Regions from separate parts of the Homo sapiens genome. Here all the other regions are linked to region 2. The links come from fine-mapping of genetic effects on gene expression. A gene starts in region 2. Each other region holds a variant in brackets. All regions are shown on one strand. Distances are from middle to middle. Region 1 overlaps DNAJC5 (DnaJ heat shock protein family (Hsp40) member C5). Region 2 holds the start of UCKL1 (uridine-cytidine kinase 1 like 1). Region 3 overlaps DNAJC5 (DnaJ heat shock protein family (Hsp40) member C5). Region 4 overlaps DNAJC5 (DnaJ heat shock protein family (Hsp40) member C5).

Region 1 (7,470 bases), 21 kb after region 2:
TCGAGACCAGCCTGGCCAACATGGTGAAACCCCCGTCTCTACTAAAAATACAAAAAATTAGCTGGGCGTGGTGGCGCGCCTTTAGTCCCAGCTACTCGGGAGGCTGAGGTACAAGAATCGCTTGAACGCAGGAGGCGGAAGCTGCAGTGAACCGAGATCGCGCCATTGCACACCAGCCTGGATGACAGAGCAAGACTCTGTCTCAAAGGAAAAAGAAAAAAAAAACTGAACTTAATAAACGTGGATTCTACTTAATTAAGAAAATTCAAAGACCAAGCCAGAAAAAAACGTCTGACAACGCTAAGGCTAGAAGGGGCAGCGAGAAGATGGGGAGCCTCTTTGCAGGGCAGTGTGGGGCCACCAGTCAAGGGAAGGCTTCCAGATCCCGCTCCCAGCGATCCCACCCGAGACAACTCAGCAGCGACATTCAGGCAGCTTTGTTTCCACAGTGAGAAACTAAAAACCTGTGGTCAGTTTGCCCAGGACCGACTGTGATTAATTCGTGACTGTTCTGTACAGAAGCTAAAATGAACCAGACCTAATATAACCACACGGCTTGATTTCTTAACTACTACTGTATCAAATGAAAAACTTAGGCCTGGTGCAGTGGCTCACGCCTGTAATCCCAGCACCCTGGGAGGCCGAGGCGGGCGGATTACCTGAGGTCCGGAGTTCAAGATCAGGCTGGCCAACATGGTGAAACCCCGTCTACTAAATACAAAAAGTTAGCCAGGCGTGGTGGCACATGCCTGTAATCCCAGCTACTCAGGAGGCTGAGGCACAAGAATCACTTCAACCCAGGAGATGAAGGTTGTAGTGAGCCGAGATTGTGCCACTGCACTCCAGCCTGGGCCACAAAGACTCCGTCTCAAAAACAAAAACAGGCCGGGCGCGGTGGCTCATGCCTGTAATCCCAGCACTTTGGGAGGCCGAGGTGGGCAGATCACAAGGTCAGGAGATCCGAGACCATCCTGGCTAACACGGTGAAACCCCATCTCCACTAAAAATACAAAAAATTAGCCAGGCGTGGTGGCGGGCGCCTGTAGTCCCAGCTACTCGGGAGGGTGAGGCATGCGTTTTCCTAAATGGCGTGAACCCAGGAGGCGGAGGTTGCAGTGAGCCAAGATCGCGCCACTGCACTCCAGCCTGGGTGACAGAGCGAGACTCCATCTCAAAAAAAAAAAAAACAAACAAACTCATAAGGCAGGTGGTGTACTCAGTACTATGGTGTAGTACAATTTATGTAAAAAGGTATAAACCAATAGTACGTCTTACTGGACCTGACAGTGGTAGACAGAGTTTAAAGCTATGGAAGCAGAGGATGGAAATGGGGAGAGACGCAAAACGGTCTTGGATGCTGCCATTTTTTTAAAATGGAAAATCTGACTCAAATTTTTTTTTTTTTTTGAGACGGAGTCTCGCTCTCCCACCCAGGCTGGAGAGCGGTGGCACGATCTCGGTGCGTTGCAACCTCCACCTCCCGGGTTCTAGCGATTCTCCTGCCTAAGCCTCTTGAGTAGCTGGGACTACAGGCACGCACCACCACGCTCAGCTAATTTTTTTTGTATTTTCAGTAAAGACGGGGTTTCACCATGTTGGCCAGGATGGTCTCAGATCTCCTGACCTCATGATCCACCCACCTCGGCCTCCCAAAGTGCTGGGGATTACAAGCGTGAGCCACCATGCCTGGCCCTTCCTTCGTTTTTCTTAAGTCAGAATAGAGGATTTCAAGATGTTTGTTACGTTATTCTGAGTTTTTGTTAGTTTGTTGACAGGATCTCCCTCTGTCACCCAGGCTGGAGTTCGGTGGTGTGACCACAGCTCACTGTAGCGTGGACTTCCCATGCTCAAGTGATTTCCCTCCTGACGAGCTGGGACCTCAGGCACGGCTACACCCAGATAATTTTAAACTCTTTTTTGTAGAGACACGATCTCACTGTTGCCCAGGTTGGTCTTGAACTCCTGGGCTCAAAGCAATCCTCCCACACTGGCCTCCCAAAGTGCTGGGATTATAGGCATGAGCCACCACGCTTGGCCTCTTTGCTCCAGTCTTGGTATTTAGAAAACGGAGGTGAAAACACAATCAAGAGGAGGGGGCATTTATCCACATCTGGACCAGGCAGGAGGGAAGCAAGGTTCCAGCCGCAAGGGGTGTGGAGGGCTGAGATCAGCTGCTGCTCTCCAAAACCAGGGATCTGCGGGACTAGCGAGTAAGACATACGTGGGGTCCGCAGTGAAAACATTTATTTTACAACAGTAATCTTTATTTTAGGCCAACATTCAGACATACAAGACGGAGATCACCATGCGGAACCAGCCTGGCCCTTAGATGTGTGTGCTCGAGCCAGGATCAGCCGGAGTCTGACAGCGCCTGCACCCCAACACGGTCGGATTCCAGGACGCCAGTGACAAAACCAGTGCATGGACAAGCAGCTTCCATGCGTGTGCATTTGATTTTTAAAAACAATACATATTTCAGTGTTAACTTCCCCCCTCACCTGGCTTGAAACATTTTCCCCATTTTCCAGGGAAACAAACTCTACCAAAAGGTGCCGCCTGCAGGACCCCGGGCCCAGCCCCTTCTGGAGGTGGTGCTGTGTGGACTCCTCTGGGGCGGACCCGGGGCCAGCACAGGGCCCCTTCCCAGGCCGCCCTTCAGATGCAGCTTTGCCACTGACCGTATCTGCTGCTCAGAAAATCAGCTTTCATGTTTCAAGGCAGGGAAGGGCTTCCAGTCCCCTCCTCGATTTCACACCGGGACACACACCTGGGTCAGGTGAGCATGACACACAGCCCCCAGGATGGGCACCCCACCCTGCAGAGCAGAGGCCAATGCTGGTGGGGGCCGTGGCAGTGCCCTGGGCACACACCCTCTGCACACAGTGGGCTCAGCGCTTCCTTCTGTGCACCTGCTGGGAAAGCCTCCTGCAGGTCCCTGCCCGACTCCCAAGAAACCAGAGGCCATTTCAGAGCCACCTTTAATTGTACTTGTCACTTCACCAGGGGACAGCAGCATGAATGACACTCCTGCTGCGTGATATATACATATACACATATGTACACACACGGACACACCACAGCCCACACTCACAGCATGTGACGACGCAAACTGTTGCTGGTAAGGACAGTAAAAATGTAGCTTTTGCCAATTCCACAGGAGAATGATTTACAACCAAAATAACAGACACAGGCCAGTCCTGCGCCACAGGGGTTCACAGCTCTGAATACTGGGAAAGGGTGAGATCAGTCATTTCGTGTCCCCTCACGAGATGTCCCCACAGTAGGATGCACTGAGTCAGAGCTAAGGGAGGGTGGACAAGCGCTGAACTCTGCCCGCAGCACCCGGACCCTCCAGTGGCAGCCTGCATGCTGGTGCCCTTCCTTGCAGCACAAGCCTCGCCCGGAACAGAACGCCTGAGAGCAGCCTCGACGGCGTGAGGCTCCAGGGCCTCTTCTGGATGGCAGCAGCCGACGTGAAGACGAAGCTTTTCCTGCTGGGCACGTGTGCATGCCAGTTCCTTTTTCTAGTAGGTCCCCACTGGGTGCTGGCTGCACTAACAACATAGAGAACTAGGAAAGTTCACAAACACTGAGCAGTAATATCTAAAGCAGTTTAAAAATAAAGCCAAAAGGAAGACAAAAAAATCCCACGTCACTGAGTGGAGACAAATCTATACAGCAGCAGCTGCCGTGAAAGGGCCCGCAGGGCCGCTCCTACGCCTCCTGCAGGTCGGAAGCAGTCAGTGCTGCCCGGACCCCCTCGTGAACCGGACGGGCCTCAAAGCACGACCCCAGAGGGCCCCTGGCAGCCCCCAGCAGCGGCGTCCAAAGGGACATTCTGTGCCCATGGCCACACTTGCTCACAGCATTGTCTGCGGCCCGAGAGTGAGGAGTCGGGGTCCCGTCACTGCCACCAGCAAAAGCAGGCAGGGGTGCTGGGGGCGTCCTGATCTGTTAGCACGTGGACAGGGAGGCGCGGAAGCTGCCCCAGGACTCACCACCTCTTTTAATTATAGGGAAACAGTCCACTCAAGAAAGAGAGAAATAAAACCCGGGAGGATCTTTTTCCTTAAATTAAGACAAAGCCTTAAAGCCAACAGGGCAGAGCGCTGAAAACGGTTCTGCTTCTAGGTCAGGCAGGGGGAGGAACTCCAGGCCCCGAGTGTCTGGGCTTCCCGGGGGTCGTCTAATCACAATCACCACCGTGAGAATGGCCACAACCATGATTTATTAGGTTTTACAGATTCTGCAGGGGACTGGGTTCCACAAACCTCCAGACCTGCTCCTCTTTCCCACCCTACCCCACCTTCCGCAGGGAGCTGCATGGTTCTACAAAATGGTCCACTGGACTCTGTAACTGAAAAGCCACCTGGCAAGGGGCCCACTCTGATGGGTACCGAAGGGCCTTGGAGTGTTCTAGCCACAGAGCTGTGTGCAGGCCCAACAGAGGGCCTGGTGGGGCTGAGCTAGGGCCCCCGATGGGCAGCTTTCTACCTTAGGTCCAAGCTTAGAACCTGGCTCTTGGCCAGTCTGCGGAAAAATAACTCACGTCCTAAGCTACATCTACAAAAATTGCAAAGGCTGAGTACAGCCAGCATCTCAGGCTGAACTTGCTGCTGCACGAAGCGGCACGGAGGCACCCCACTGTCTCGCCACCTCACCTTTCAGGATGGGCCAAACAATGAATTTCTTATTCTTTTAGGAGAGGTCTGATTTTGATAAATTATTTCTAATTTAATATCACAGTGCATATCTCTCCTCTTGTCAAAGGTCTTCGTGATCATTTTAGTGAGAAGAAACAAAGAAAAGTGGGACAAACAAAGCTGCCCAGGACCTAGTGCTGGCAGCCGGCTCATGGTCCACATGCGGATCTGCAGTAGGGGTCAGCTGGGGGCCCTCAACCAGCACCCTGTTCCTAAGCACGTCCAGATGTATCCTCATATCCATGTCCCTTTTGGCAGCTTCCTGGTCAACCTGAACCTACCCTTCTGCACAGCCTCGGGTGGCTGCTGAGGGCAATGAGTGAGCTGGGGCCACGGGTCAGCAGGCAGGCAGGGAAGGGGGCTTCAGGAGGCTCATCTGGTTGGTCCGAGCCAGAGCCATCACACACAGCCTCCTCCTCAGCTTTATCTCTACAGGGACCTCTGCAACTCTGCAGCGGCCACCATGGACATTCTGCAGAAACCAGGCCCACTGGAGTCTGCAGCATGGCGCCAAAGGCAGGCCCAGCACATCCCATGAGCTACGGAGTGCGGGCAGCTCTGAGCCCTCAGCCAGCACAGGGACATCAGACCCGTTCCCCCTGCTCCCCTATGCAGGGCGCCACCCACAAGGTCTAGGACACGCAAGAGACTGACTTCCCATGGTCCACATGTGGATTCC[G/A]TAGTCTGGCTGCTGGCCTCCCAAGGGACCCACAATGGTCCACGTGTGGATTCCGTGGCCTGGCTGCCGGCCTCCCAGGGACCCACAATGGTCCACGTGTGGATTCTGTGGCCTGGCTGCCGGCCTCCCAGGGACCCAACCCTCCTGAGCCAGAGGGTCCCTCTGGTCCAGTCAGTCCTTCCTCCAGGGACCTAACGAATCTGGCTCTGCCTGAATCATCGATGACGGGGCAAAGGCGAGTGGGGCAGATGGGAGCTCTGGCAAACACAGGAGGAGGGGTCGTGGGAGAGCCCCCGTCCCCAGTAGCTGGGTGCTCACACATGCACAATCTACTCTCTGACTGTGGCTCATTGGGCTGGTCCTATCATCTGTGGTTCTAAAGGTCCAAAAAGGGCTATGGAAAGGACAGGTGTGCTGGAAGGAATGTGGAGAACGACCTCAAGATGGGAGGGGGGAGACTGGCCCCATCAATCCAGCTCAGAGCCCGGGAAAAGTGCAGGAACACAGACAAATAACCCCAACACGGCGAAGGACACACCTCCGAGAACCAGAACGGCAGCGTCCACACGACGAGACGACCAGGCGAGAAACACCGCGGAGGACACGGTGTCAACCTCGGAAGGGGCCTCCTATGCTTTCCACACCAAATTCTCCCACGGGAGAAACCCTGCCACAAGGCCCAGGAAACCACAGACCCCCAAGCCAACCATGCCCAGCACAGACACCAAGGAATGACAGTGACGCCGGTGACGCCAGGAGGACGCGGCCCCGCCTCTCTTCTGGCAGGTGAGATCAGAGTCCTACTGCAGCCTCAAGGCTGGGAGCACAGAGTGTGGACCAGACCCCGAGGCCAAGACGGTAACACAGCTCTGCCAGGCAGCACCTGCCTCCGGCCCCTCAAGCACAGGTAGGAAAGGGGCAGCCCCCCTTCTCCTCGCCCACCTGACCGGCTGCAGTCACCCCTCACTGGACCAACCTGACCGACAGCCCTGAGGCAGCTCCACCGTGCAGTTCACGCGGTCATGCCGCGGAATGTCCACAACACAGACATGGAACAGAACCCCATACATGCTATTAAAAAAGGGAAAAAAACAGAAGACCGTAGCTACACTGCTTTAAATACTGCATGCTACGCACTTCGTGGGTCAAGGGTCGACGCTGGGTGGGCGTGGAGGCAGGAGGGGCCCCAGCAAGGCCAGGGCAGGCAGGAGGCTGCCTTCCCATCTCTGTGACTACAGTTCATGATTCTAAGGTTGGCGTGGCCAGGCGCCGGCTCCTCCTCTGACCACAGCTCCTCCTGGATTTAGTTGAACCCGTCAGTGTGGTAGCTGGGGTGGGAGTCGGCTGTGAGCTGGGTGGTCTCGGTGGCGGATGCCGGCTGTATGACGATCGGCGTGTCTGTGGCCTCTGAAAAGCAAGCACACAGGGCACTGCACGAGGGCCACAGCCTGGCGCGCACCCAACGCTGGTCCTGTGGAGCGACTTTCGGGCACCTGGACAAACTCTCCACCGGGAGAGGCTACTCGCTGACCTCCACCCCACACGGCTTTCCTCCGTCGCCTTGGGTCACCGCCAGCCCTCGGCCCTCAGCCCCGCCCCAACTGCCTGCCGCCCTGCCCCGCCTCGCAGTCCCTGGGATCTACGGCTACCGCAGGTCACGGCGGGGACAGCTCTATGCGCCTGCTTTACCTCAGGGTCCACGTTCACACCTCAACAGTCCCAGCTGCCACCACAAACACTCGCGGCACAGTGTCAGTGCCCTCCTGTTTGACAAGACAGGTTGACACCATTCAGGGCCCATTCTGGCTCTGCCCCACACACACACACGGGCCCTGGGGCGGGCACTCACCCCTCTCGTCAGACTGCAGCTGTGCCTCCAGATCCTCGGGGGACACGTAGAACTCCGTCTCCTCGCCTTCAGGCGCCTTGGGCTTACACTTCCCGCAGCAGCAGTTGAAGCAGCAGCACAGACAGCAGCAGCAGTAGCAGCACGTGAGGAGGCCGCAGAAGACAAACAGGGCCTGGGGGGAGAAGAAGGTGGTGTTGCATGGCCTCCGAGGCCCCTGGAGAGGGAGGCGCAGGACTCCC
Region 2 (7,201 bases):
AAGTCACAGCAGGTTGATGGCAGCTCCAGAGCTGTCTTTGCCCCTTTGTGGCCCTGAGGACGGCTGGGTCTATAGGTAGGGCAGGGGTCAGGCAGGGAGTCCAGGGTGCCTGGAAGAGGTGGCCACAGCCTGTGGCTCCCTCCCTGGGGTCCTGCCTTCCAACCACGGCATTGCAGGGAGGATGAGGCTCAGAGGGGGTAGGTTTGGAGGGAGGCCATTTTCCAGGGTGGGTGGGAGTGGGCTGAGGGCTCGGCCCCACTGACCCTGGACGATGAGAATTTTGATGTTTGCCCGTGTGCGTGTGTCTCCTGGGTGTAGTGGATGCCAGTCTTGTTGCTGTGACAAGTAACAACCTTTTTTTTAAATTGTTTTTTATACAAACACTCGCAATCCGACATTTGGTGCTAAGGGTTTCCTGGTGCAGACGGTGGGCCTGGGGGCTGGGCTGGACCAGGGCGTGGGTCTCTGGGGTTGGGGTCCCTTGCTGCTCAGGGAGGCAGTACTGACTGGGCACTGCCTCTGCCCCCAGCACCCACCCTCCCCCATTCCCCAGGGAGAAGGGGCCCCACTGGGCTTGGCCTGCAGTAGTAGGGAGACAAGTTCCAGGAGCACTTTGGGGACTGGGGTTGCAGAACACTTCCTGTCTCTGGCTTCATCCTTGGGCCAGAAGGCTCCAACCCTCAGCAGCCCTTGCCAGATGTGCCAGGGAGTGGGTGTGGAGACCCGGACTCCCCCCACCCACGCACACCTCGGCCTGATGAGAGGATGGAGGCTGGGGCAGAGATGGGCGTGACCCAGCGTCAGAGGGTCGGGGGAGGCATTCCTTCCTGTGTCCCAGAGCTTCACTGGTGGAGCTGGAGGAGCCGGAGGTGGAGGGTGGGGTCTGGCAGCTGCTGCTGGGGCAGCCTCATGAGGGGAGGGGAGGGGAGGGGAGGGGAGCAGGCACTGGGCGGGGGCCTAGGTGCACTTTGTCCTTGCCACCAATGGCGGGAGGAGGGTGGACCTGAACACCTGCAGGGTGTGGTGCCTGCCCCAGCCTCTCAGGTACTTGGCCCTTGGGGAGAAGAGAAGAGGGTCTGGTTTTTGCTGGGGGTGAGTTTCCGGGACACTCCCAAAGCCCACAGATAATCCCTGGTGTGGGAAGAGGAGTCCTGGATACCTTGATGTTTAGCACTTTAACCCCCTTTGTCTTTAAGGTAGGCGTGGGGGCTACTGCCAGAAGTGGCTGTTGGGTCTGACCCCCTCCTTTCTGCCCTCCCTCTGCCACATGCTGGTCCGCAGAGCCCTCCTCCCAAGGGGTGGGGCCCTGGGTGGAGCTCAGCAGGGTCTGCCCACTCCCTACGCTGGCCCACATAGGCCTCCAGGAGCCCTCAGTGAGAGGGACCAGCATAGCTGACCCCCAGAGTGTGGTGGGCGCCGGCCCTGCCCGAGGCCCAGTCGGGGCCCTTTCTGCAGATCTACCTCTGGCTCAGCGCACGCCCCCTGCCCTGAGAACAGGAAAGGGCCCGGAAGGGCTGACTCACCGGGCCGACGCTCACACGAAAATGGGATGCACTTTATTTGCTGGTGCAAAGGCAGGTGAGGGTGCCTCCTGTGTGACCGTTGGCCCTCCTGCCTGGTGGCGCTGAAGGGAAGGAGCCAGTGAGCCTGACCCCGGGAGGGGCCGTCCCCGTGTGCCGCGTTTGGCGGGGCCCCAGGCGGCTCCCCCAGGCCCGGGTCTGGGGCCCCAGGCTTTCCCCTGCCTCGCGGCCGGGCGTCCCGTGCTTTGGGTTTCTTGGTTTGGGTTTTTTAATGCCAGTTCTCAGTACATAAGTGCATTTTGAAAGAGGTTCCAGCTATCACTTGTAACCATATATATATACATATATATTCTATCTACAAAGTGTTTATTTGCGAGATGTTTCAACGGTGAGTTCGGGCCCCGCCCGCCTTGTGACCATCTGTCCCCGGTCCTCGTCCCCGCCCCGCGCCCTGGTCCCGAGTGGCGTGGGGACGGGCCATCACTGTATGTATTAAAATGACTGTATCAAATAAATGTTTATTGATTTTTTTCCAGGGTTTTTGTGCGGCTCAGTTTGTGGTGAAAAACAGGGGGCGGGGCCCTCCAGGCACGTGGCGGAGGCTGCCGAACTACGGGTCCCCCATGCCCGCCGCGCGGCCTTGTGGGGCTTGTAGTCCGCGACGCGCGGCCTTGTGGGGCTTGTAGTCCGCGACGCGCGGCCTTGTGGGGCTTGTAGTCCGCGACGCGCGGCCTTGTGGGGCTTGTAGTCCGCGACGCGCGGCCTTGTGGGGCTTGTAGTCCGCGGTGGGCAAGAGAGGGACCCGCCAGCTCCCGGCGGCCCATGCGCGCCGCCCGGCCAGGCCCGCAAAGAGGCCTCCGAGCGCCATGGCTGCGCCCCCGGCCCGCGCGGACGCTGATCCTTCGCCCACGTCGCCACCTACGGCCCGAGACACACCAGGCCGGCAGGCTGAGAAAAGCGAGACCGCGTGCGAGGACCGGTAGGCGTGGGCCTCGCCTCCACTCCACTGGCGAGCGGGAAGGGGCTGCAGATCCGGCCGAGCTGGGCGGGTGGTCCGTCCCCGCCGCGAGCCCAAGTCCCCCACTCCCGGAGGCCAGGCGGCGGCGCCCCGTTCTCCCACGTGCCGGGTGGAACCCCGCGGGCTTGAAGCGGCCGGGAGGACGGACCTGGCCCAAGCCGGCAGGCTCCTCGGGGCTCGGGGAAGGAGTCCGGGTGCGCACCCCCAGCGTTGACCTTGGTCTCTGCCCCCGGTGGGTGGGGCCCTCGGCCTCGAGCGCCCGGCGGGCTGTGTGCCTGCTCGACTGTGCGAGTTGGTCTATGTTGTCGGCTCGGGGTGTGGCCCTGCCCGACCCGCGAGGCCAGGGCTTAGGATTTGGAGGTGCTGCGGCGCACGGTGCCTTCGGATTGCCTCGCACGCGCGTGGCACCTTCGAGCCTCTGCGGGGGCTTTGCAAGAGCATGAAGTGGGGAAGTTGTGGGGGTGCAGCGGGAGGAACCCGCCCCCACCCCGGTTCGTCACCCCGAGTGGCCCCTCTGGGAGCCGGGCCCTGCGCGGCGCCTTTGGGGCCGTGGCCGTCAGGGGGCGGTGGCCACGCAGTGCCCGGGGCTGCAAGAGGGCGCTCTGGGCGCTGCCCCTCCCTTCCGGGTCTGAAGTGTCCCTTGGGGAGCCCGCGGGGTCCCCAGGAAGGGGTTGTTCCCACTCAGGCGCCTCTTGCCTGGGTTCAGGCTGTGACTCCTGTCAGAAACGCTGTGAGCCAGGACTCCCTCAGAGATGGGCTGCGCTGGATGCCGCAGGGGGAAGGGTGTCCCGGCACAGGGTCGCTCCTCTCCAGGAGCTGCTGAGCAGAAAGAGCTTTCCCCTGGCCCTGCGTCCCTTCAGGTCCACACCCTCCCAGTGGGCAGTGACTAGGAACTTTGCATGGCTGGAGTCTAATAGGGCCTGAGTCTGTTCCTCTGCTGGTTCCAAAGAGGCGTTGTTTTTTTGTTTTGAGATGGAGTCTCACTCTGTCGCCCAGGCTGGAGTGCAGTGGCTCGATCTCGGCTCACTGCAACCTCCCTTTCCCGAGCTCAGTTCAAGCAATTCTCCTGCCTCAGCCTCCCGAGTAGCTGGAATTACAGGTGTGCGCCACCACGCCCGGCTAATTTTTTTTTGTATTTTTAGTAGAGAGGTATTTTGTCAGGTTGTCCAGGCTGGTCTCCAACTCCTGACCTCAGGTGATCTGCCCGCCTCGGCCTCCGTGGGATTACAGGCGTGAGCCACCGCGCCCAGCCACCAAAGAGGTTTTGATTTAACCCGAGGTGGGGCAGGCCAACGCTAGATAAGCACTGAGAGCTCTTGAGAAAGGCACTCCTGGATGACACAGGTTGGTGGCAGCAGCCATCTGGGCCTGCCCTGTGCACAGACGGTGGGCTGGGCACGGTGGCCCTCGCTGTGTCCCACGAGGCAGAGACTGTTGTTATCTTTCTTTGGTGTGGTTACCAAGGGACAGGAGGGAAGCTCCAGGCAGTGAGGATAGATTGCAGCACCCTTCTCCAGGGGCCCCGGTCTGCCCTGGAACTGCCTCTTGTCTTAGGCACATTTCTTGCACTTTGTGTCCTGATGCTTGTGCCATCGAGGACTTCCTCTGCCCCAGCCTAGGGCTTTTCTCACTGTTCCCCGAGCGTGTCCCCAACGTTCCTGCGTCTGCCCCTCTTCAACCTCTGCTGCTGCCCTTAGTGTTCCAGAGCAGGCTCCAGCTTGGAGGTCTGTGCACGGGTGGAGGTCTGTCCCCAGGGCTGGGGTTCCTCCACCACCGTTCCAGTGCCTCCTGCCACATCCTCCCGGCAATCAGTCTGTCCATCTTGCCTGTTGTTTATTGTCTGCTTGCCACTCGTGACTCTGTCCTGGGCACCTGCCCCCAGAGCTGGCCCGTGCTGGTGCAGGAACAGGTCCTTTGTGGTGTTAGCAGTGACTCCTGGCTGCGGTTGAGATGGAGTCTGGGGCTGTGGAAGTGGGGAGCAGAGGGAGGCTGCCCATGATCTGTGCAGGGCAGGTCCTGCTGAGGGAAGGTTTCCTGAGTGGTGGGGTGGGCCAGGGCAAGCCCCCAACCCCCAGTGCTCATCCAGCCTGAGAAAGCAGCCCTAATGACTCTCCCTGAGTCAGTCCGGCACCAGTGGGGTCAGGCCTGCATTGGCTCCTGTGGGCTAGCTCCTCCCTGCTCCCTCCTCCCCCCAGCCTCATTTTAGTTATCCAGCAAACTTCCCTTAAACCTGACCTGTCAGGAGGTGCCGTGCTACAGGCACCCAGCAGGAAGGTCCGTGGGCGATGGTGACCCCAGGGGTGGTAGAACAGGCCTGAACCACAGCAAGGGAGTGCCCGAGCCTTCCTTTCTCCCTGTGTGCTCTCTCCCGTGGCTGTTTCCTCAGTGTCGGTTTCACATGCCCTGCGCTCCCTGCTGCTGGACGTTTGCTTCTGGTTTCCTTGGCATTGTGGATGGTTCGTGAGGGGCAGCCCTGCCTCCAGGTCTCCACACATGCCTGTGCTTATTTTTCTTCCTTTCTTTTTTTTTTGGAGATAGAGTCCTGGGCTGGAGTGCAATGGCACCATCTCGGCTCACTGCAACCTCCGCCTCCCGGGTTCAAGCAGTTCTCCTGCCTCAGCCTCCCGAGTAGCTGGGACTACAGGCGCCCGCCACCACGCCCAGCTAATTTTTTGTATTTTTAGTAGAGACGGGGTTTCACCATGTTGGCCAGGCTGGTCTTGAACTCCTGACCTCAGATGATCTGCCCGCTCAGCCTCTGAAAGTGCTGGGATTACAGGCGTGAGCCACTGCACCCGGCTGCCTGTGTGTATTTCTTTTGTTTTGTTTTGTTTTGTTTTTGAGATGGAGTTTTGCTCTTGTTGCCCAGGCTGGATTGCAGTGGCGCAATCTCAGCTCACAGCAACCTCTGCCTCCCGGGTTCAAGCAATTCTCCTGCCTCAGCCTCCCAAGTAGCTGGGATTACAGGCATGTGCCACTACGCCCGGCTAATTTTGTGTTTTTAGTAGAGACAGGGTTTCTCCATGTTGGTCAGGCTGGTCTCAAACGCCCAACCTCAGGTGATCCACCTGCCTTGGCCTCCCAAAGTGCTGGGATTACAGGCATGTGCCACCGTGCCCAGCTAATTTTGTATTTCTAGTAGAGATAAGGTTTCTCCACGTTGAGGCTGGTCTCAAACTCCGACCTTGGGTGATCCGCCCGCCTCGGCCTCCCACAGTGCTGGGATGACAGGCGTGAGCCACCGCGCCCGGCCACCTGTGCCTATTTCTTGACGATGACATCAGTTATGGGGCCTGATCACCGATGAGGCATCTGCCTTGGACTTTATGAGCTGACCCACCTGTAATGAACCTGCTGTTAGTCCTTGAGGAGGAAACTGAGGCAAGCTGTGGCTCCGTGGAGGGGACTGAGCCACATTCGACTGTGCTGTGGCCCAGAGTAGGATGGCTGAAGGTGAGGGAAGGGCAAGGGGTGCCCTGAAGTGACTGAGGCAGCCTCCAGCACCACGGGCCTCAGACAGCCCCACCTGCAAGGAGGAAGCCTTAGGCAGAAGGTGCTCTGGGCAGCGCTTACCCCAGCGCGGCATCAGCACCTGTGGGTGGCGTGGGAATGGGAGTTCTCTGGACCGGCCCAGCTCAGGAAGTTAGAACCTGGGAGGAACACCAGTGAATAGGACCAGGGCAGGCTACCCCTCCCCACCGTGAGCGGCCCCTCCCTGCCGTGGGCTGCTGTGGCCGAGAGCAGCCCCGTGGAGGGGCATGTTGGGGACCACGTGGCCTGCAGCGAGGCGACGTGATTCCAGGGTGGGGCCTGGTGGTTCCATTCACAGCTGCGTGCCTGGGCTCCTCCGTCCCTCGCCTGGCCAGCACAGTGCTGGCTTCCCCAGGCCTGTAGCCTTGCCTCTTGGCCGGCTAGGGCAGCCAGGGTGCATGCCCATGCCAGGCAAGACCAGTCTGCGTCCACTCTGCTGTTCAGACAGCCCAGCCAGTGGCATGGCCCCCAGGAGCCCGGACTCTGCGCCCCTGCTCAGGACAGCCTCCGCCTCCCCGACCCTGGGCTGTCTCCTGCCCACTTCCCAAGTGAGGGATGTAGCCGCCTCCTGGGAGCAGAATGAGGAGAGGAAGCACCTGTGGACACAGACAGATGGGCCGGTCCTGCCTCTGAGGCAGCTCCCAGGAGTGGCCTACTATTGAGGAGTATGACCTCCATGTGGAGTCTTCCCTTTTCCCTGAGCTTCTGGCAGCCCCTGCCTCAGTACTAGAAGCTCCAAGAGAAACCCATGGTAGGAGGAAGCTGACACCCATGGCTGACCTGTCTGCCCCTGGGAGAGAGCTTAGGGCTGCCAGGACTTCTCTGTGCACATCCTTGACTGACTCTGCGGAGGGTGGGGCCGAAACCCTGTTTCTGTGGGCGGGGAGGTGGCTGTGTCCCCTGTGCCCTGCTGAGCCCTGGGCGGGGAGGTGGCTGTGTCCCCTGTGCCCTGCTGAGCCCTGGGCGGGGAGGTGGCTGTGTCCCCTGTGCCCTGCTGAGCCCTGGGCGGGGAGGTGGCTGTGTCCCCTGTGCTCTGCTGAGCCCTGGGTGGTGAGCCCTGGGTGGCTGCAGGTCCCTGCAGGATCCCCCGTGAGTGGGGGTAGGGCAAGGCAGTTATTTTCAGATGGTGCCA
Region 3 (7,470 bases), 45 kb after region 2:
TGTAAGCTACTTGGGAGGCTGAGGCAGGAGAATCACTTGAACCCAGGAGGTGGAGGTTGCAGTGAGCCAAGATGGCACCACTGCACTCCAGCTTGGGCAACAAAGAGACCCTGTCTCAACAATAAATAAAAAATAAAAATACAAAAATCAGCCAGGTATGGTAGTGCACGCCTATAGTCCCAGCTACTCAGAAGACTGAGGCGGGAGAATCACTTGAACCCAGGAGGCAGAGGCTGCAGTGAGCTGAGACCGCACCACTGCACTCCAGCCTGGGCAACAGAGCGAGACTCTGTCTCACTAAAAAAAAAAAAAGAAAGAAAAAAAACAGGCTGTTAGGAACCCTGGACCCTGGGGCAAGGGGAACAACTCTAGAAAGAACAGATGACGTCTGAGGAGAAGCGGGAGGAGAGGGAAGGAGACAACAGGTGCTGCGGACTGCAGGGAGTGGGGCAAAGACAAGTCACCTAAGGAAACAAAGGAAACACGGAGGAACTACCAAGAGCGACAGTCACACTGGGATGGGGAAGACACAGCAGGGGCTGGGTCAGCAAACGGGCATGACACAGCACAGGGAACTGCAAAGAAGGCACCAGCAAACACCTCTGGGAGAGACAGTGCAGACAGGGAGATGGAGACGGGGCAGGGAACTACCTCTTTGCTCTAGATGCCCTTGGCTCATTCTATACAAAAAAAAAAAATTGCTAAAAATACAAATACGAAAAATAAAATACAACTGGCATTTCTTTTATCCTGCTGGGGAATCTTAATTTAAAATCTGTGATGAACCATGTAAAAACTGACTGCCGGCCGGGCACGGTGGCCAAACCTGTCATCCCAGCACTTTGGGAGGCCAAGGTGGCCAGATCACGAGGTCAGGAGATCAAGACCATCCTGGCCAACATGGTGAAACCCCGTCTCAACTAAAAAATACAAAAATTAGCTGGACGTGGTGGCAGGCGCCTGTAGTCCCAGCTACTCGTGAGGCTGAGTCACAAGAATCGCTTGAACCCGGGAGTTGGAGGTTGCAGTGAGCTGAGATCACGCCACTGCACTCCAGCCTGCAGCCTGGGCGACAGAGCGAGACTCCGTCTCAAAAACAAACAAACAAAAACCTGACTGCCAAAGGATACTCAGACAGGTAGGTCAGGCAAGGGAAGGACTGACAATCAGAGCATGCTAGGGACAGGGACTTGGAACACAGTTAAAAGGGTAAAAGCCCCACAGTTTGAATGTGTATTTCTGGATTTTTATTTGGAATAGATATTATCTATTCCAAAAAAAACCCAATTAACTCTGTAAATACATTTGAAGAAATTATAAACAAGAGTCAACAAAGCAAGCTAGAGAAAAGACGCTGTGTGCCACATCACAGGTGTCCCTCACCTTTACTCTTTTTTTTTTTTTTTTGGAGACCGATTCTCACTCTGTCGCCCACGCTGGAGTGCAGTAGTGCACTTTCAGCTCACTGCAACCTCCGCCTCCCGGGTTCAAGCGATTCTCCTGCCTCAGCTTCCCGAGTAGCTGGGATCACAGGCATCTGCCGCCATGCCCAGATAATTTTTGTATTGTTAGCAGAGATGAGGTTTTGCTATATTGGCCAGGTTGGACTCAAACTCCCGGCCTCAAGTGATCCGCCCACCTCAGCCTCCCAAAGTGATGGGATTACAGATATGAGCCAGTGTGCTAGGCCTTTCCTCCTAACTTAAAATGAATTTCAAATGTAAAGACTTTCCAGCCGGCCATGGCAGTTCATGCCTGTAATCCCAACACTTTGGAAGGCTGAGGTGGGGAGACTGCTTGAACCTAGAAGTTTGATCATTCTGGGCAACATGGTGAAACCCCATCTCTATTAAAAAAAAAAATACAAAAACTCGCCAGGCGTGATGGTGCACACCTGTGGTCCCAGTTACTCAGGTGGTTGGGATGGGAGGATCACTCGAGCCCAGGAGGTCAAGGCTGCAGGGAGCCGAGATCGCGCCACCGCACTCCAGCCTGATTGACAGAGCAAGACCCTGTCTCAAAAAAAAAAAAGAATTCCTAAAGTCCCTGGAAACACAGAAATCCCCAAAAGATTTCAGCTTTCCTCCTTAATTCTAAGAATAAAAAGCAACAGTGATGCTGAGCTTAACGCAACACGAGAACAGCAAGAGAAAATAAAACTGCTTCCACGACCATCACCAAGCATCCAAGTACGAGAGGAAGTGAATCTGAGCTGGAGCCATGGCAGCGCCCGGCCGAGCCAGGGAGGAGCAGACAGGCAGGGCAGCTGGCCCTTTTCACACAGTAACAAGCCCCATGCTCGCTCACACACAGAGTGCCACAGAAAACGAACGCCTGCCCTCGTGAGTCACAAAGTTAATGTCAAGAAGCAACAAGACCAGCGGCCACACCTGAGGAAGGATCAACTGCCTCAACCCATAGCTGCCACCCTGCCCAGAACCACGGTTTCCTGAAACTATAAAACCATTCCAAAGGTATGATTAGCTACAGAGAAACAAAACCAAACCCCACATGCTGAAGCCCTTTTAATTCACAGACTCATCTACTGCCCCAGGTCCTAATAGAGCATTCAGTGAATGTTTGCTGCATTAATTTTATTGGTATTGACTTGGGTCTGGAAACCTAATAAAGATTTTTTTTCTTGTAAACTGATGCTTAGAATACAGTAATTCAAAAAGAAAAGCAGATCAGAAGTTGAACAAAATAACTCCAGATATACATTTGAATACAAAGAATTGAACAGGCCGGGCATGGTGGCTCAGGCCTATAATCCCAGTACTTTGGGAGGCCAAGGCAGGCGGATCATGAGGTCAGGAGATAGACCAGCCTGGCCAACATGGTGAACCCCCGTCTCTACTAAAAATACAAAAATTAGCCGGGTGTGGTGGCGGGCACCTGTAGTCCCAGCTACTTGGGAGGCTGAGGCAGGAGAATCGCTTGAACCTGGGAGGCAGAGGTTGCACTGAGCCGAGATCATACCATGGCACTCCAGCCTGGGCGACAGAGTCAGACTCTGTCTCAATTAAAAAAAAAAAAAAACATTCTCAAAACCCTATTACTTGGAGAGCAGGTTATCCAACACGACACTCATGCCCTCCTGGGCATCGGGCACCCAGGTACCTCGGGCCTCGCCCTCCCAGTCCCAAGCGCACATCACTTTTTTTTTTCGAGAGGGAGTCTCGCTCTGTTGCCCAGGCTGGAGTGCAGTGGCGCGATCTCCACTCACTGCAAGCTCTGCCTCCCAGGTTCACGCCATTCTCCTGCCTCAGCCTCCCGAGTAGCTGGGACTACAGGCACTCGCAACCATGCCCAGCTAATTTTTGTATTTTTAGTAGAGATGGGGTTTCACCGTGTTAGCCAGGATGGTCTCCATCTCCTGACCTTGTGATCTGCCCACCCCCGCCTCCCAAAGTGCTGGGACCACAGGCGTGAGCCACCGCGCCCGGCCAGCGCACATCACTTTCGATGGTGCAAACAGCAGACAAAAAGTCCAGGTGACACCAATGAGGCCACAGGTTATGACACCTGGGTAGCGACTATTCAATCAAGGTTTGAACCTCTCCATACAAAGGGGGCCTAGAACAAGCAAGCACCCCCAGGAACAGAACGAGTCTGAAGACACGAGTGGTCTTCCGTTACCGCAGCACTGCTGGTCAAATCACTCAGGTCTGTGCAACACTAGAGAAGAAAGCTCCTAAAGCAGAATCGTTACTACAACCAAAAATATTCCAGAAAACCTTAACACAGTCCCAAATATGAAAGACAAGTGTTCTTCATAAGATCAGTAACCACGAGGTCATGCTGCTTGCTGGTCTTCTACCCTCACAATACTAAATCCGCAGGATTCTGGTCTGGTGCACGCCCTGGCCCAGG[C/T]GGGCCTCTGCTGCCCCCCGCAGGCTCTCCTGAGGATCCCCAGCCAGATGAGTCTGGACATACTTCCTATCACGGAAGAAAAGGCATAAAACCAGCAATCGATTCAGTAGAAATCTACTCTCACGGGGAAGACTTTTTTCTTTCTTTTTCTTTCTTTGAGACGGAGTCTTGCTCTGTCGCCCAGGCTGGAGTGCAGTGGCACAATCTCGGCTCACTGCAGCCTCTGCCTCCCAGGCTCAAGTGATTCTCCTGCCTCAGCCTCCAGAGTAGCTGGGACTACGGCACGCATCACTGCTCCCGGCTAATTTTTTGTTGTTGTTCTTGTTGTTGTTTTTGAGACGGAATCTCGCTCTGTCGCCCAGGCTGCAGTGCAGTGGCGCCATCTCGGCTCACTGCAAGCTCCGCCTCCCTGGTTCACGCCATTCTCCTGCCTCAGCCTCCCGAGTAGCTGGGACTACAGGCGCCCGCCACCACGCCCGGCTAATTTTTTTTTTTTTATTTTTAGTAGAGACGGGGTTTCACTGTGTTAGCCAGGATGTATCGATCTCCTGACCTTGGGATCCGCCCGCCTCGGCCTCCCAATTTTCACCATGTTGGCCAGGCTGGTCTCAAACTCCTGACCTCAGGTGATCCACCCACCTCGGCTTCCCAAAGTGCTGGGATGACAGGCGTGAGCCACCACGCCCGACTGATTTTTGTATTTTTATTTTTTTGGGCGGGGGGGACAGTGTGAACACAGTCCCTCCACTACCACAAATTACGCAGTCAAGTTTCCCACATTTGGGGAAAACGCAGGGCTCAGCACATCCGGAGTGCAATGGCTAAGCCTTGCCCTGGGAAAACCACCTTCGCGATCATGGTATCTCCCCTGCCGGGTAAGTATGATTTTTGTATTTTTAATAGAGATGGGGGGGTTTCACCATGTTGGCCAGGCTGGTCTCGAACTCCAGACTTCAAGTGATCCGCCTGCCTCAGCCTCCCAAAGTGCTTGAATTACAGGCCTGAGCCACTGCGCCTAGCCTCTTTTCTTTTCTTTTTGAGATGGGGTCTCACTCTGTCACCCAGGCTGGGGTGCAATGGTGGGACCACAGCTCCCTATAGCCTGGAAATCCTGAGCTGAAGCTCTCCTCCCACTTCAAGCAGCTGGGACCACAGGCACGTGCCTGCACTGTGCCAGGCTAGAACTTTATCTGGATATAATAATCACAACATTCAAATCCTCAACTTCACATAACACAAATTCATAAAAATACCTATGACCACAATCCTACTTGCAGTATCATATCTACTTAGTGACCTTTGCCCTGTTCATTCCGTGACCAATCAAACGGCACACCCACCCTGGCTGCGGCTCCACCCCACTGTACAGTGGACTGACAGGATGCTTCCACTGAGCAGACCACAGAGCAGAAGCTCAAGACACAGAGAGTGGATCCGCCACAGTTCATAAAATGCTACAGATGGCATCTGGGTATTTCCAGCACTTCCAGCGGGAACCCGCTCTGAAACGTTAACTGATGGAAACGGCCCTGACTTTCCCACACTCACCCCCTGGCCTAGGACTGCTCTTAGAGAAATTCACCCTGGGGTGATGGCTGGCCACCACCTCCCATGCGTGGGGCTGTCCCTGGTGAAGCACATACATAGGGTTTCAGAGTGCCTCTGCAACTATGACGAAAGTCAAATCATTCCAGTGAGTCTAGTATGCAACCAAGTATAAGGTGCACCAATTTAACCCTAACAAGCCAACCGTAAAACATGCGAAATTTCAGGGCCAGGCGCAGTGGCTCACGCCTGTAATCCCAGCACTTCGGGAGGCCAAGGTGGGGGGATCACGAGCTCAGGAGTTCGAGACTAGCCTCGCCAACCTGGTGAAACCCCGACTCTACTAAAAATACAAAAATTAGCCAGGCGTGATGGTGCACATGCCCGTAGGCCCAGCTACTGGGGAAGCTGAGACAGGAGAATCACTTGAAGCCGGGAGGCAGAGGATGCAATGAGCCGAGATCGCGCCACTGCACTCCAGCCTGTCGACAGAGCGAGACTCCGTCTCAAAACAAACAAAAAACCCCTAAATTTCAGAGGTAGTTAAGTAGTAAAACACATGCATTCACCTCAAAATTGAGACAGTATGATCTGACAAAACTTGTGATATCTGCTTTGAGTTTTATCTACACAGCAGCTGCAGCTTAGGAAACACTTACCACGTGCCTGCCATCTACTGAACAGAGCCCTTCCTAAGAGGCCTGTGAGACGGGCCTGGTCAGGGGGTGGGAGGGTAGCTCTGGGGTCACCTGTCTGAGCTGCCATTGACAGGGACTCAGTGGCCAGGCAAGTTACTCAACACCTCCCCATGTCGATCTCCTCTTTGTCGAATGGGCATTAAACAGTCCAGCAAGGTATGTCTGGGAGCTGGCTTGAATAAAGCGGTCAGACCCTATGCCAGGCACACAGTTAATGTTAGCTATTATGATGATGATCTGTGCTTTTCGGCTAAGAAGACTGAGACTCAGGAAGGTGGAGTAACCTATTTGCAGTCACCGTGCTAAGGATCAGCAGGGCTGTAACTGAAATCAAAGTCAGCCTCCCAAGCACCGTACATCGTAACTGATTCTCAGCATCCATTTCACAAAAGGCAGTAATTCTTCTCTGTCCTGATCACAAATAACTTATTTTCTTGTACATCAAGCCTTTTCTGAATAAGGTACTATATGGACCACTGTCATTTATTTTATTTTATTTTATTTTAGAGACAGAGTCTCACTATATCACCCAGGTAGGAGTGCAGTGGCTCAATCACACCTCACGGCAGCCTTGACCTCCTGGACTCCTGCAACCCTCCGAAGTAGTTGGGACTACAGGTGTGCAACCACCACACTTGGATAATTTTTTATTTTTTGTAGAGGCAGGATCTCCCTAAGTTGCCCAGGCTAGGCAAACTCCTGAGCTCAAGTGATCCTCCCACCTTAGACTCCCAATGTGCTGGGATTACAGGTGCGAGCGATGGCACCCAGGCCACTGTCATATTTTAATTAATTAATTAATTTTTTTTGAGACAGAGTCTCGATCACTCACCCAGGCTGGAGTGCAGTGGCGCGATCTCGGCTCACTGCAAGCTCCACCTCCCAGGTTCACGCCATTCTCCTGCCTCAGCCTCCCGAGTAGCTGGGACTATATACAGGCGCCCACCATCACACCCGGCTTTTTTTGTATTTTTAGTAGAGACGGGGTTTCATCGTGTTAGCCAGGATGGTCTCGATCTCCTGACCTCATGATCTGCCCGTCTCGGCCTCCCAAAATGCTGGGATTACAGGCGTGAGCCAGCGTGCTCGGCTATTAATTTATTTATTAAGACAGAGTCTTTCTATTGCTCAAGCTGGAGTGCAGTGGAGCAATGTCGGCTCACTGCAACCTCCGCCTTCTGGGTTTAAGCAATTGTCCTGCCTCAGCCTCCTGAGTAGCTGGAATTACAGGTGCCTGCACCACACCTGGCTAATTTTCATATTTTTAGTAGAGATGGAAGGGGTTTCGCCATGTTGGCCAGGCTGGTCTCAAACTCCTGACCCCAAGTGATCCACCCGTCTTGGCCTCCCGAAG
Region 4 (7,470 bases), 29 kb after region 2:
CTAAATAAAAAGTACTTTATAAGGATTCTAGTGAGGAGGCCGACCAGTCAAAGCCAAATACAGGCTTCTCACAAATGCCATGCAGTGATTCCAACCCTCTGGCCTCATATATGACATTTGGAACAAAACGAGGAAACGAAGAAATGCGGATGTAACATCGAGGCTTATTTCCTCCTGTCTCACGAAGGACTGGGAGCCATTTACAGAAGAAACCCTGGCGGCTCCGCACGGCTCTTCCCTGGGACAATCTGTACGCTATGGCTTGTTCCAGGCAGGACACCAAGCCAGTGACAGAGCTTCGCCCATCACACAGGTGAGGAGAAAGGCTCCATATGCCCAGAAGCCTTTTCTCAGGAGTGTAGAGTTGCTGGCATCAACGCATGGGCTCTGCAATGCTGGGAACCCTGCAGGCGTGGAGTGACCCGGGTGCCCACATGGCAGGAGAGACTCGGGTGCCCGCACGGCAGGAGTGACTCGGGCGCCCGCACGGCAGGAGTGACTCGGGTGCCCGCACGGCAGGAGAGACTCGGGTGCCCGCACGGCAGGAGAGACTCGGGTGCCCGCACGGCAGGAGTGACTCGGGTGCCCGCACGGCAGGAGAGACTCGGGTGCCCGCACGGCAGGAGTGACTCGGGTGCCCGCACGGCAGGCAGCTCGCCCTCACCTTGGCCCACCAGCTGGACAGCACGAAGTAGGTGTTCACGTTCTCTTCCCCAAACTGCTCGGCCACGTAGAGACCCAGCGAGCCGTACTTGTCGTAGATGTTCCTTTTTGTGGCGTCCGTGAGGATGGCGTGCGCGTTGTTGATCTCCTTAAACTTGTCCGCGGCCTCCGGGTTGTCGGGGTTCTTGTCGGGGTGATATTTCAAGGCAAGCTTCCTGCAAACCAAAACCATGTCCTGGCTCTACCCTGGACTTTGTTCCACCCGCACCCGCCGCCGCGTCCATCCCACCCGCACGCACTGCCGGGTGCAGTGGAAGGCAGGTCCACCCAGGCCACCTCACTGTCCGACTCTCCAGGGCTGCAGGGGCCAGGGACAAAAGCAAGCTCCGCGGTTGTTTCAGGTAAACCTCCTCACCCTGACCCAGCCTCAGAGGAGGGAGCCCCAAGGGCTGTGAGTGCCACGGCACATCTAAGTTCAGCGGCACCAAGGCCAGCCCTGGTGTCCCAGCCGCTAACTGCACAAGTGCCAAGTGAACGGTAAGCACGGCGGGGCGTAATGATGGCACTTTAAGAAGTGTTTTATGAACTACACGATGCTAGCACACGAGAGGAGGACTATCTGAATTGTCTGGATTAGTGATGGTGTCTCTTACAGGTTACTCAATGAAACTGTACCCAAGAGTGCAGTTCTTCAAGCTCAATCAGAAGGCCACAACAGAGTGAGGGGTCTCTGTCATCACTGTGCTAAAACAAGGAGACCACAGGACCATGCCAGCGCTCTGCGGCTCCTGTGAGGCCTCAAACAGGTTCAGACCCTGACTCCCTATGGAACTGTGGACAGTGTGTCAGTTTCTACTAAGTGCTATTTTTTGTTGGCAAGAGAACATGAATACCATAACTTTAAGCTATAAGGAGCACATTACACATACAAAGGTGTTACCGAGCTGTGACCAGTTCAACGCTGAGTCGGCCAGGATAAAGTATGTGCAATGGTTCTTGGTAAAATGCAGACTAAACCACACGGGGCATGTGTGTCTTCCTGGGGGGATGTGGGGGCCACACTTGTCCACTTACCGATAGGACTTTTTAATGTCATCTGAGGTTGCGTTCTTGTCCAACCCAAGGACGTGGTACAATGACTCCCCAGAGGTAGACAGTGAGCGCTGTCTCTGGTCTGCCATGTTAGGCTATTCTAGAAGAAAAAATAAAAAGAAAGTATCACAAAGTATAGATGAAAGTACCAAGGGCAGAGCTGATGGACTTTATTCCATAAGACCGTTCAAAGCAAAAGAATCCAACACTGCCTTGTGGAGTTTGCCACGTGCACAGACAGACGCCATGGCATGGAGAAGTGTGAGACGGCAGAATACGGCCACCCCAAGAGATCCTGAAGAACTGCAGCTGTGTACTGTGGGCCGGCACAGGGGCTCACACCTGTAGTCCCAGCATTTTGGGAGGCTGAGGCGGGAGGACCGCTTGAGCCCAGGAGTTTGAGGCTGCAGTGAGCTATGATCACTCCACTGCACTGGAGCCCAGGAGACAGGGACCCTGTTCCTTAAAAACAAATATATAAATAAACAAAATAAATTAATTAATTAAAATAAACATGCATATTGTAATCCTTACAGCAACCTCTGCATAAAAAATGCAAAGAGGTATAAGCTAAAAAGTTACAAGAAAAATGAAAAAGTAACTCAACACAGGAAACAAATAGAAAATTAGTTGGAAGATCTAAATCCAAACATATCAACAATTAAATTCAATGTTAGTGGACAAAAAACTCCAATTAAAGTAAGGGACTGACAGAATGGATAAAAATGCAAGACCCAACTTTAATTTTAATACTTTCTCAGAAATCGACAGAACAGACCAAAAATCAGGAAAAACATCGATGTTCTGAACAACACTATCAACCACCATGACCTGATCTTCACAGAACACCCAACATCTAGAGAACACACAGTTTCTTTCTTTCTTTTTTGGGGGGGGGGACAGTTTTGCTCTTGTTGCCCAGGCTGGAGTGCAATGGCACGATCTCGGCTCACCACAACCTCCGCCTCCCCGGTTCAAGCAATGCTCCTGCCTCAGCCTCACACAGGAGTAGCTGGGATTACAGGCATGTGCCACCACACCCAGCTAATTTTGGTATTTTTAGTAGAGATGGGGTTTCTCCATGTTGGCCAGGCTGGTCTTGAATTCCCGACCTCAGGCTGAACTCCCGACCTCAGGTGATCCGCCTGCCTCAGCCTCCCACAGTGCTGGGGTTATAGGTGTGAGCCACAGCGCCTGGCAAATACACATTGTTTCTACATTGTTTCTAACTAATCAACCACCATGACGTGACAGTCACAGAACACCCAACATCTAGAGAACACACATTGTTTTTAACTGAATGCTGTACACTAAGACAAGCCACATGTTAGGGCTTCAAGCTGGTTTCAATAAACGTAATGGAATGAGGTCACACACAGCACTATCCCTGACTTAGCTACAAACTGGAAACCCAGGAGGAAGATACTCTTGATATTCAACAACACACCTCCGGCTAACATGTAGCTCAAAGAAGAAATCCCAGGGGAACTTAGAAAATGTTTTGAATTGAATAATAAATACAGTGTAC[A/G]TGACGGTTAATTTCATGTCTCCTTTGCTGCATCGTGGGGCACCCAGATGAAACATGACTTCAGGGTGTGCCTGGGAGGGTGTTTCTTGGTAAGAGCAGCACCTGAGCTGGGGGCTCCATGAAGCCAACTGCGCTGCCCTGTGCAGGTGAGTGTCGTCCCAGTCCACGGGGGTCCCGAATAGAAAGGGGTGGGAGGAGGAGTTGGCCTGGGTTTTCCTTCTCGCCTGCCAGCCTGAGCGGGGCCACGTGTCTCCTCCTGTCCTTGGACTGTTATTATCCCACTGCTTTCCTCAATCTTCAGCAAATGGCAGAGCATGAGATTCCGTCTCCATAATGACGTGGGCCAATTCCTCATAACAAATCTCCTTTAGAAAGAGACACAGATAATGGCAACGTTCCTCTGCAGAATGCTGACTAGTACAACACGTTAATCAAGGCCTAAGGCTCCGCCTCAGGAAGCTACAAAGTAACAGGATAAACCCAACATAAATGCAAGCAAGGAAATCATAAGGAACAGAAATCCATGAAAACAAACAGATAACTTCAACAAAGCCAAAAGAGTTGGTTCTTTGAGCAACATGAGGAAAGACATCACTACAGATCCTAGAGGCGTGAAAAGGATAAAATACGAACAACTTCATGCCAAGAAATTAGAAAAATTAGATGAAATGGACAAATATCTTGAAAATTACAATTTACCAAGACTGACATGAAATAGAAAATCTGAATAGGCCTGCATCTGTTAATAAAGTTATATTTGTAATAAAAAATCCCCAGAAGGCCAGGCGCCGTGGCTCACGCCTGTAATCCCAGCACTTTGGGAGGCCAAGGCGGGCAGATCACGAGATCAGGAGATTGAGACCATCCTGGCTAACACAGTGAAACCCCATCTCTAATAAAAATACAAAAAAATTAGCCGGAAGTGGTGGCAGGCACCTGTAGTCCCAGCTACTCGGGAGGCTGAGGCAGGAGAATGACGTTAACCCGGAAGGCGGAGCTTGCAGTGAGCAGAGATCGCACCACTGCACTCCAGCCTGGGCGACACAGCGAGACTCCGTCTCAAAAAAAAAAAAAAAAAAAACCAGATAAAATTCCAGGCCCAGATTTTTTTTTTAACCAAATATTTAGGAAATGACATCAATATGGGGTTTTGAGATAGTCTCGCTTTGTTGCCCAGGCTGGAGTGCGGTGACGCGATCTCGGTGATACTGGCAGGAGGCAGCTGAATGCCAGGCAGATGGGGCGGGTTCCCGGTGAAACCCACCTCCAAGCCAAAGACAGTTTAAAGCCTGACAGCTGAGCTACAAGTTAAATCCTCAGACTAGATGAAGAACTTGCCTTCCTGTTTGCCACACTTTCCTCTGATTGATCCCCATCCTTCACCTATTTTACACATACCTACCCTTTCCTAATTTTTATTTTTGAGGTGGAGTCTCGCTCTGTTTGCCCAGGCTGGAGTGCAGTGGTGTGACCTCAGTTCACTGCAATCTCTGCCTCCCGGGTTCAAGCGATTCTTCTGCTTCAGCCTCCCAAGTCACTGGGACTACAGGCACGCGAACCACGCCCAGGTAATTTTTGTATTTTTAGTAGAGATGGGGTTTCACCACATTGACCAGGATGGTCTTGAACTCCTGACCTTGTGATCCGTCTGCCTCAGCCTCCTAAAGTGCTGGGATTACAGGCGTGAGCCACCGTGCCCGGCCTCTTATAATTGGTTTTCTACACTGTCATGCCCACTTTAACCTTTTCTGCATACTCACAAACCCATCAGCAAGCTCTGCAAGCACTCCGCATCCTGAGTCCATAAAAAGCCCCAGACCCAGCCACACAGGCGGACTTTCCTGCCTTCAGGTAGGGGAACCACCCCTGCATCCCCTGGTCCGCTGAAAGCTGTTTCACTGCTCAATAAAGTTCTTCTCCGCCCTCCTCACCCTTCAATGTCCAGTGTATCCTTGATCTTGAGTGCGGTACATGAGCTCGGGAATGGCCGAACACAGTACAAGCTATAACACAGGTGAGTTGGGGCACGCCAGTGTGGCCAAGCAGGGCCCAGGTGGGGCATCACTGGCCAGGGGTCCCCGGCTTGCAAAGTGACCGAGAAGAAAAATCCTAAGTCATCAACTCACTGCAACCTCCGCCTCCCAGGCTCAACCCATTCCCATGCCGCAGGCACGGGACTACAGGCACGCACCACTGCACCCAGCTAATTTTTGTATTTTTAGAGACAGGGTTTTGCCATGTTGTCCAGGCTGGTCACGGACTCCTGGCCTCAGTCAATCCCCCCCTCGGCCTCCCAAAGTGCTGCGATTACAGGCATGAGCCACCGTGCCCGGTTTTTTGTTTTTGTTTTTAAGTTAAATAGGCATGGTGGCTCATGTCTGTGGTCCTAGTGACACAGGAGGTTGAGATAAGAGGATGGCTGAGCCCAGAAGCTCGAGGCTGCAGTGAGCCATGATCGTGCCACCACACTGTAGCCTGGGTGACACAGTGAGACCTTGTTTCAAAAAAAGAAAAAGAAATAACAAGACCTATGAAATCTGTACGTTGAAAACCACAAATTGCTAAGATACTAAAGATAAGAAAAAGATTCCTCATGTTCACGGATTAGAAGCCTCGATATAAAGAAGTCAGTTCTCCCCAAACTGATCTGTAGACTTGACAGAAGCCTAACCCTAATCCAAGAGGATTTTTTTTTGCAGAAACTGATACTGATTTTTTTAAATGTATAAGGAAATGTAGCAGACAGATTAGCCACAGCAACATTAATAAAAAGAACAAAAGTTAGAGAATTTACCCTATTGATTTCAAGACATATACTATATATCTACAGTAATCAAGACCATCTGGTACTGAGGAAAAGACACACACACAACAGCAGAATCGAGTTCAGATAGATTCATACTGAAAGGCACAGAAGGGGAGAAAATATTTACATTATGTACGTATAAAAAACAATTCACAAGTGGAATAAAGAACTCTTACACAAGTCAATTACTAAGGCAAAAAACTCCATTTTTAAAAACGGCCAGGTCGTTCTGGCTCAAGAGCGCAGAATGACTTGGAGGCAGTGAGAGTGTAGGAACGGATGGACTTGGCAGATTTTCTTTTCATTCTTACCATTTCAGGATAGAATCCAAAATCACTCAACACATAAAGCTGAGAAAATGTTAACTCATTCTTTCTTTTCCCCGCCTGACTTTATTGCCCGGGCTGGAGTGCAGTGGTCACATTTCAGCTCACTGCAACCTTGACCTCCTGGGCTCAGCTGATCCCCCCACCTCAGCCTCCTGAGTAGCTGGGACTACAGGTGTGCAATACCACGCCCAGCTATTTTTTAAAATTTTTATAGAGTCAGGATCTTGTTGGTCTCAAACTCCCAGACTCAAGCAATCCGCCTGCTACAGCCTCCCAAAGTGCTGGGATCACAGGTGTGAGCCACCCTACCCAGCCTAATTTTTTTTTTTAGAAACAAGGTTTTTCTCTGTTGCCCAGGCTGGAGTGCAGTGGTGCGATCTTGGCTCACTGCAGCCTTGAAATCCTGGACTCAAGAAAGCCTCCCTTCTCAGCATCCCAAGCAGCTAAGACTACAGGAATGTGCCACCATGCCCAGCTAACTTTAAAATTTTCTATAGAGACACGGTCTGGCTTTGTTGCCCAGGCTGGTCTCAAGTGATCCTCCTGCCTCAGCCTCCCAAAGTGCCAGGATTATAGGTGCAAGCCACTGCTCCTCACCAAAATGTGACTTATTCTTTTTTTTTTCTTTTTTGAGACAGAGTCTCACTCTGTTGCCCAGGCTGGAGTGCAGTGGTGCAATCTCAGCTCACTGCAACCTCCACCTTCCAGGCTCAAGCGATTCTCCTGCCGTAGCCTCCTGAATAGCTGGGACTACAGGCACGTACCACCACGCCTGGCTAATTTTTGTATTTTTAGTAGAGATTGGGTTTTGCCATGTTGGCTAGGCTGGTCTGGAACTCCTGACCTCAGGTGAGCCACCCGCCTCAGCCTCCCAAAGTGCTGGGGATTACAGGCATGAGCCACCATGTCCGGCTAAAACCTAGATTTTTAGAAAGGAATGAAGACCACTGGAAATGGTAAATACCTAGGTAAAACACCATTTTTTGCTTTTTTGTTTGTTTGGAGACAGGGTCTTGCTCTGTCACCCAGGCTGGAATGCAGTGGTGTGATAA

Evidence for each region. PIP is the estimated chance that this variant, and not a neighbour inherited with it, causes the effect.
Region 1: its variant is fine-mapped to the expression of UCKL1 in whole blood (TOPMed, PIP above 0.99).
Region 3: its variant is fine-mapped to the expression of UCKL1 in monocytes (TOPMed, PIP above 0.99).
Region 4: its variant is fine-mapped to the expression of UCKL1 in whole blood (TOPMed, PIP above 0.99).

Annotation. Positions count from the first base shown.
Region 1 is chr20:63,930,784-63,938,253 of GRCh38, reverse strand. DNAJC5 (DnaJ heat shock protein family (Hsp40) member C5) reads right to left here. Exons shown (of 5, transcript NM_025219.3): 4 at 7,232-7,403; 5 at 2,243-6,789. The coding sequence ends at 6,686. Among named protein-coding and RNA genes, the nearest start is that of MIR1914, 7.0 kb to the left of the region's middle. RefSeq lists an enhancer at 5,517-6,018. The variant G/A (reference allele first, on the strand shown) is at 5,383.
Region 2 is chr20:63,951,558-63,958,758 of GRCh38, reverse strand. It overlaps UCKL1 (uridine-cytidine kinase 1 like 1), which reads left to right and starts at 2,343. Exons shown (of 15, transcript NM_017859.4): 1 at 2,343-2,499. The coding sequence starts at 2,387. It overlaps ZNF512B (zinc finger protein 512B), which reads left to right. Exons shown (of 17, transcript NM_020713.3): 17 at 1-2,055. It overlaps UCKL1-AS1 (UCKL1 antisense RNA 1), which reads right to left and starts at 5,375. Exons shown (of 1, transcript NR_027287.2): 1 at 1,774-5,375. RefSeq lists enhancers at 384-1,269, 1,270-2,157, 2,187-2,246 and silencers at 1,577-1,786, 2,377-2,746, 2,847-2,896, 2,947-3,256.
Region 3 is chr20:63,906,241-63,913,710 of GRCh38, reverse strand. All of the region lies in intron 1 of DNAJC5 (DnaJ heat shock protein family (Hsp40) member C5), which reads right to left. It also overlaps the pseudogene RNU1-134P. Among named protein-coding and RNA genes, the nearest start is that of MIR941-1, 9.5 kb to the left of the region's middle. RefSeq lists enhancers at 934-1,434, 2,856-3,355. The variant C/T (reference allele first, on the strand shown) is at 3,874.
Region 4 is chr20:63,922,720-63,930,189 of GRCh38, reverse strand. DNAJC5 (DnaJ heat shock protein family (Hsp40) member C5) reads right to left here. Exons shown (of 5, transcript NM_025219.3): 2 at 1,738-1,855; 3 at 665-878. The coding sequence starts at 1,844. Among named protein-coding and RNA genes, the nearest start is that of MIR941-5, 6.6 kb to the right of the region's middle. The variant A/G (reference allele first, on the strand shown) is at 3,284.